Homo sapiens: one gene and its partner. The protein of the gene in region 1 purifies or fractionates together with the protein of each later gene. This does not show direct contact. Each region holds a gene or a part of one and is shown on either strand. Other genes may lie near its edges. The genes, in order: COL4A1 and FKBP9.

Region 1 (3,824 bases):
AGATAACAAGGTAACTCACGGATGGTGTGGCGTCTGCCCTGCGCCCCAGCCGTGTGGAGGGTCTCTGTTCCACCTTCCAGACGTGCTGTGTGCGAGGCGCCCACCATTGCCATTTCCTTCTACTGGTTTTTTCTTGTGCTTTTCTACACATTTTTCCAAGTGTAGAAAAAGTTGGCAGGAAAGCAATTTTTAAAATGTTCGTGCACGTGTACAAGTTTGATTGTATGATTTGCTGGGTTGATTGTACTGCAGCTACACTCTTCATGTTGCAACCACCAGATTAACAGGTTGTTGCAATAATTCGAAGTGCTGCATTGTAACTACTTTATCGAGAGAGCCAGAAAGGTTGAAAATGCTGTATAGAGAAATCAGGACACTAACAATGATGTAAGCTTGCCATGTTCATTAAAAGGTAGATTGGATTCGCCACTCCATAATCATAAGAAATACTGAGTGGAATCTCTGTGTGTCAGAGAAAGCCCACAGTTGCATTGAGGACCCACAGGAAAGCTGTTGTCACCACCAACCCTTGTCCGGGTGTCAAAAGGCCTGAAACAGTGATTGCCCATAATTTGTCTAAATCAGGAGCAAACGAAAATAGTGACGTTCTAGAGAACAGTGTCTTCCAGCACCTCCTCTGAGTTCTCAGGACGGTGGCTCTGATCTGGAGGTCTGGAGACCCCGTCCTTGCCTCTGCTCCGCCTTGAAGCTATGTGATCCTGGTCAGATCCGAGAATGTCCTCAGCTGGGAATCAGTGGAGTTAGCCTTGTCCTCAAAGGTCCCTTGTGTCTCCAAAATTCTAGAGTTCACATTTCCTATATCTGAAATAATAGTCACGGGGCTCTGTTGTAATGTCTTAGTCAAGTTTGTATGTCATTCATTTTAAGGTCTTGATTTCTGAGTACAGGAAGGTCCTACTTAAACCTGCTAGACCAAAATGCAATTTGATATAGTAGTAGCTATTTTTTTCTCTTTCTCTTGTTTTTCTCTCTTTTTAAAGAAAAAAAATTGAATGATTATTCTTTACCTTATTATAAGATAAATAGCATCTAATATAGCAAATACAGGAATGCATTTGTAAAGTCTGATTCCACATCAGTTGTTTACAACATTATTTGAACATTTTGGCTATTGTCTCATGACCCATGTTAGAATGGGTTGGAGTGTTTCAAATCTAATACACAGTGAGCTCTTCTTTAAACTCTAATGAAGCTGGGCTGGTCACCTATTTGGGAAGCAGCCATTAGACGATCCCTGGGGCCATGCTGAGCACCATGGGGCCCCAGCCATGCAGGCACTGGCTTGCGGGCCAGCCCGATAATTTGGGCACAGAGTGTGTCCTGTGGTGACCACATGAGGCTGCAGTGTGTGGCTTTCCAGAGGGAACACCCTGGCGCCTTCCTGGGAAGGATCGATCTCTTTCCTGGTGTTTGGGGAGGGAACCTCTGACTCACGGCTCGCATCTGTTCTGCAGCACACCAGCGCTGGTGCAGAAGGCTCTGGCCAAGCCCTGGCGTCCCCCGGCTCCTGCCTGGAGGAGTTTAGAAGTGCGCCATTCATCGAGTGTCACGGCCGTGGGACCTGCAATTACTACGCAAACGCTTACAGCTTTTGGCTCGCCACCATAGAGAGGAGCGAGATGTTCAAGTAAGTGGGAGCACTGCTTTTTTGCAGGCTGCTGGCCCCTTTGTGACTTTATTTTTTAATCATCCGCGATCCGTAACACCTTCCAATGCAAAGTCTCAAAGATGGTTAGCAATGAATATTTGATGCTGTTCGACATGGGCAGATGACCGAGACGATTTTCAAAGGCAGACCTTCAGTCACAGGTTTAATTTTTTCATTTACCGAAGAACCATGAAAGAAAAAGGTCATTTTCCATTTTTTCTAGGTGAGTGTACTAAAATGTAATTAAAGCAACTGAAATCTCCAAACAGAGCATGTTTGAAATACAGTATATTTAACAATCCCGGGGAGAAGAAGTGAGCAGCGTTCATTTTCATGCCATTCATAACACTGATCGTAATGTACACTTTGTGTAAGTTCTGAGTGACTTCACAAGGTATTTTTTTAGACCTGTGCAAATAAAAATTAATTTCAGCACAAATTCAGCTGAAACTGAGAGGGAAGACCCTTCCTTCCTTTTCCATTACCAAAATCTCACCTTTAAAATGACTGGCCCAAGTGGCTACTAACCTTGCTGGAGTTGACTGGGAGCCGGGCCGGTCCCCGAAGGCCAGGAACGCATAATGAACCCTCTATCCCGAGCCCCAGCTGCAGCCCCGCTGGAGCCAATGCAGGAGGCTGACGGAGCTGGCACAGCTGCTTACTGTTCATTTCCAAAACAAGCGCTTCTCACCCCTGGAGATGAGCCTTTCCATCTTCACCTTTTTGGAGAGAATTATATGGAACCCTGCTATGATCCTGTCTCTTTCCAGCTTAGATAGTAAGAGGCAGAACAACATACACGCTTCTCTAATTCGTTACTCATCCAAAAAGTGCCGCGTGCCTAACTGGTGGTTTATTGGAGCCTTTCAAGGAACTGGAAACTTGACATCCATGCTGCAGATAGAGTTTAACCATTCACTACCAAAATGAGCGCACTTTGTTCATGCCTCAGCCCTTGCGGTGTCCTCTTATAAGGTTGATAGGTAATGATGGGTTTTTTTTTTTTAACCAGCAGCCTGATACAATAAACTAAAATGTTTTCCCAAAGCAAATTAGGTAAGATCCCATTAATTTAAATAATAAACTTGAGGGTACTAGAATTTGCACCAAAAGTTAATAAAATAAGCAGCCTCAATTTTAGGATGAGGCACTCTCATAAATGGCTATTTTAATTTAGTTTAATTAATTTATTTATTTTAATAGAATTTTCTCAGTAACAATTTTAGTTCAGATTTTACCTTTTCAACAATCAAAATAATGTAGAGTTTCTAAGCTTGAGAAACACTTGGGACATTGAATGTCTTTCCCTCTTTTTGGTCTCAAAGCAGACCATCTGCATAGAAATCCTTCAAAAGTTATAAAAGTATTTCGAGGTCTAGGGAATTACTCCAGATTTATTACTCATCACATCATTCCACAAATATTTAATGAATACTTACTGTGTGTGTAAAGTGTTGCAGAGAAGAATAATATCTTCTTCTTACCCTGGAGGAGTTTATGATCTAGTGGAGGAGAATGGAAAAAAAGTGAAATTGTAGTACGAGGAGGCAGGGTGGCACAGAGGGGAATGGCCAAGGCTTCGGAGCCAGACTGATGTGGCGGGACTTCAGCTGTGCCCTATGGGGCTGTGGGCACTGGGGCAGGTGCCAGGGCCTGGGTGTGCAGCTGGTAACCTGCAGTGTTCTGTGTGCGTGGGACCGTGTGTGCACTGCACCCAGCACCTGCCTGCTCACTGGGTGGTACCAGGTTGAGGCCTGATGCCAGGGGCTGGGCTGATCCCTTAGAGATTTCCGAGCAGGGCAGGAGTGCCATGTTTCTGACGTGCTGTGAGATGATGGCCAATGGTCTGTCTCTGTGTCGTGTTTTAGGAAGCCTACGCCGTCCACCTTGAAGGCAGGGGAGCTGCGCACGCACGTCAGCCGCTGCCAAGTCTGTATGAGAAGAACATAATGAAGCCTGACTCAGCTAATGTCACAACATGGTGCTACTTCTTCTTCTTTTTGTTAACAGCAACGAACCCTAGAAATATATCCTGTGTACCTCACTGTCCAATATGAAAACCGTAAAGTGCCTTATAGGAATTTGCGTAACTAACACACCCTGCTTCATTGACCTCTACTTGCTGAAGGAGAAAAAGACAGCGATAAGCTTTCAA
Region 2 (3,824 bases), on another chromosome or scaffold:
GGGGGCCTCACTTTGTTGCCCCGGCTGGTCTCGAACTCCTAACTTCAACTTAACTCCTCTTGCCTTGGCCTTCCAAAGCCCTGGCCTGACCACAGCCAACTCTTTCTTTTTTGTGTGTGTGAAAGAATAGGTAACTATTTTGCAAAATCAGTTTAACACATTTTTTTTTTTTTTGGAGAGAGTTATGCTGATTCTTATTGAACTAGATTTGCTGGCAATATTCAAGGTAGTCTAAAATTTCCAACCCTACAAGTACTGTCCAGTGGAGATGTTCCTGTATCAGTAACTCCTAGGCAGGGTTTTTGCTTTGCTATGGCCCCATTACATCTGTGGGCACATTTTTACAGGTTGGTTTTTACTGAGGAAGGGACTATTTATACTTTTCTTTCTCTTTCCCTACCCTTTGGGCCTTCAGCTATGACAGAGACTCCACTTTCAATGTGTTTGTGGGAAAAGGACAGCTGATCACAGGGATGGACCAGGCTCTTGTTGGGATGTGCGTAAACGAGAGACGTTTCGTGAAGATTCCCCCAAAGCTTGCCTACGGAAATGAAGGAGTTTGTAAGCTTTTCTTCCTCGTTTATAAACACGTCAGCAGAAACAATGAGAACACTTTTAGGATGTTAAGTCAAACAGACTGGAGAATCTTGGAAGCTTTAGATTGGGGGAAAATGAAAAGCAGTGAACTCATACACAGCTAAAATTTCCATCTTAGGTTTATTTCTTCTAGATGTGAAAGAAAGTGTCATTAACACAGATGTACTGAATGATACCCTCAATGAGAAGAAGACTGTTTTTTCTCTTTTCTTTCAATTTCATTTGGAGGAAAGAGGGAGGAAGAATGGGTCATTTTGGGATTGTATAGCGGTGACTGCTTGAACCCTTTTGGCCCACATTCACCTTGGGAGCATCCTAGGTGTTTATTTATCTGGCCTGAAAGGCAGCAACTGTGAACTCAGTGTGTAATCTTTAATTTCTAGCTGGTGTGATCCCCCCCAATTCAGTGCTTCATTTTGATGTACTTCTGATGGATATTTGGAATTCTGAAGACCAGGTTCAGATTCACACCTATTTCAAGCCCCCGAGTTGCCCTCGGACCATCCAGGTGTCTGATTTTGTGAGGTACCACTACAACGGGACGTTCCTGGACGGAACTCTGTTTGATTCGAGGTAAGTCCTGTCGTTCATGGCAGTATCAGTGAAATGTCCCATGCATAGTTCTTTCCTTCTGTCTTACTTGCTTTTTATGCTGATGGGGATACCAGAATAAGGACTCTTCTCAACTGTAATCAGTACTGAACTCATCTACTTAAGACTTTTGGTCAGTGTTGCATCTTCTCTGGTGCCAGAGTCAAAATTTTAATACATCTTAGAAACATTGAAGAGCAGTGTTTATCTAACTTAACAGTATTTTGAGATCTCATCATTAAGTGAAAGGTTCTATTTCTTTCTTTTTTTTTTTTGAGATGGATTCTCGCCCTGTCACCCAGGCTGGAGTACAGTGGCACGATCTTGGCTCACTGCAACCTCTGCCTCCTGGGTTCAAGCGGTTCTCCTGTCTCAGCCTCCCAAGTAGCTGGGACTACAGGCGCATGCCACCACACCAAGCTAATTTTTTGTATTTTTAATAGAGACGGGGTTTCAGCATATTAGCCAGGGTGTTCTCGATCTCCTGACCTCATGATCTGCCTGCCTTGGCCTCCCAAAGTGCTGGGATTACAGGCGTGAGCCACTGCACCCGGCCGTGTAAGTCTCTATTTCTAAGGAGGCTTATGCACGTTTTGGTTCCTTTTTATAGTTTTCCCATGGAAGCAAGAGGGAAAAGATGAATGTATGTGAAGCTATGGAGAGGCATGGGGCTACACGGGAGATCAGGGAACCCTTCGCAATTTCTTCTCATTAGAGCGTGTTTGATTAGTGGAATAGCTGGCCTGTTTTTGTCTATCACTAGTATAAATGCATGCTTTTTATTTCTTTCTAAACTTGAGGACATCTGCCCTGTGTTTGGGGGAAAAGATCCATAAATGTCTATCTCTAGGATGGGTATGGGATCATCGTTTAGCTGATATTTGGGTAAGAAAAACCGTACGGAGAGATGAGTTGGAAATATCCTCATGGTGTGGAACTTTTTCCCTTTCTCATTACCTTTCAGTCACAATCGCATGAAAACATATGACACGTATGTGGGAATTGGCTGGCTGATTCCTGGAATGGATAAAGGGCTGCTGGGGATGTGTGTGGGTGAGAAGCGCATCATCACCATTCCTCCTTTTCTGGCCTATGGAGAGGATGGAGATGGTAAGTCCGTCTCCTTCTTGGAGCCACTCTTTCCTACCCTTATTTTTATTGCAGTGGTTAATTCAGTTGTCACCACATGAAACCCACTAGACCTTTCGGTCTAGACCTACACTGGCCAATATGGTAACCACTAGCTACATGTGGCTATTAATTAGCTAAAATTTAAAATTCAGTTCCTTGGTCACACTGCTACATTTTAGGTACCCAATAGCCTCACGTTGCTGAGGACCACCATAGTGGACAGTGCAGATACAGACCCAGATCATTTCCATCACTCAGAAAGTTCTATTTGACAGTGCTAGTCTGGATTGTCTGCTGTCTGATGATTGAGTTGCAGAAATTTCCACTTACTTATAGTCATTGGCATTCATAAGTAACCCCCTCTGCCCCTGTTGTACCTGCCATGGCCTTGGCCACCAACCTCTCTGGCTTTAACATTTGTGAAATGAGACTTGAATTAGACACTATAAAAGTTGCAGATATCCAGGTAGAAATTTAGCCATACAATGTCAGAATTGCCAGATTTCCCCGTTTGCACCTCTATGATGAGTTTTACCTATGGCATTAACTCCATATGGACAAAAGCAAAGTGTAATGTTAGAAAACACATTAATTACAACTAGTGTCCTGTTTGTAGTTTTACTGTGAAGGAAAACACATAATATTGACTGATAAATGGAATGTCTCAGGTACTCATGTTTGAATTTCAGGTGCGTTTAGTCATATTGACATGCTGGCACAACATAGAGACCGGTAGACATTTAAACAGCAGATGGATACAATGATGTGTTGATTCATAATGGGGATATGTTCTGAGAAAGGCATCATTAGGCAATTGCATTGTTGTGCAAATGCCATAGAGTGCACTTACACAATCCTAGGTGCTACATCCTGCTGCACACTTAGGCTGTGTGGTGTAACCTGTTTCCTCTAGGCTGCAAACCTGCACAGCATCTGTACTGAATCCTGTGAGCTACTGTAACACAATGGTAAGAATTTGTGTATCTAAACATAGAAAAGGTACAGTAAAGACATGATATGATAATCTCATGGGACCACTCTCATATATGTGGTCTGTTGTTGACCAAAACTTCATTGTGCAGCACATGATTTTGTAGTTAAGGATATAAATGAGAACATGATGCTTCTTAAGAAGTTTACTGATAGTGATAGCCAGCTTACAATAGCCAATATGTTTTCAACGTTTTTTCCTGGCTCTGTGGAGCGGAGCAGGAGCAGAAGGGAGCCTGAGGTGATGGGGCTCAGCCTTCTCTCCTTTCTATCTCCATATATATATATATACTTATATATATATATGTATATATACACGCCCATATATATATATACACTCATATATATATATACATGCCCATATATATATATGTATATATACACTCATATATATATACTCATATATATATACACTTTTTTTTTTTTTTTGAGACAGAGTCTCACTCTGTTGCCCAGGCTGGAGTGCAGTGGTGCGATCTCGGCTCACTGCAACCTCTATCTCCTGGATTCAAGAG

Evidence for each region.
Region 2: the proteins of COL4A1 (region 1) and FKBP9 purify together in Homo sapiens (co-immunoprecipitation; one large-scale study listed by IntAct). This does not show direct contact.

What each region holds. Positions count from the first base shown.
Region 1 is NC_000013.11:110,150,158-110,153,981, reverse strand, and holds part of COL4A1 (collagen alpha-1(IV) chain isoform 1 preproprotein), read left to right. Parts: intron 1-1,475; coding exon 1,476-1,648; intron 1,649-3,537; coding exon 3,538-3,619; 3' UTR 3,620-3,824. UniProt on the Homo sapiens protein: Type IV collagen is the major structural component of glomerular basement membranes (GBM), forming a 'chicken-wire' meshwork together with laminins, proteoglycans and entactin/nidogen.
Region 2 is NC_000007.14:32,974,202-32,978,025, forward strand, and holds part of FKBP9 (peptidyl-prolyl cis-trans isomerase FKBP9 isoform 1 precursor), read left to right. Parts: intron 1-415; coding exon 416-561; intron 562-980; coding exon 981-1,170; intron 1,171-2,152; coding exon 2,153-2,298; intron 2,299-3,824. UniProt on the Homo sapiens protein: PPIases accelerate the folding of proteins during protein synthesis.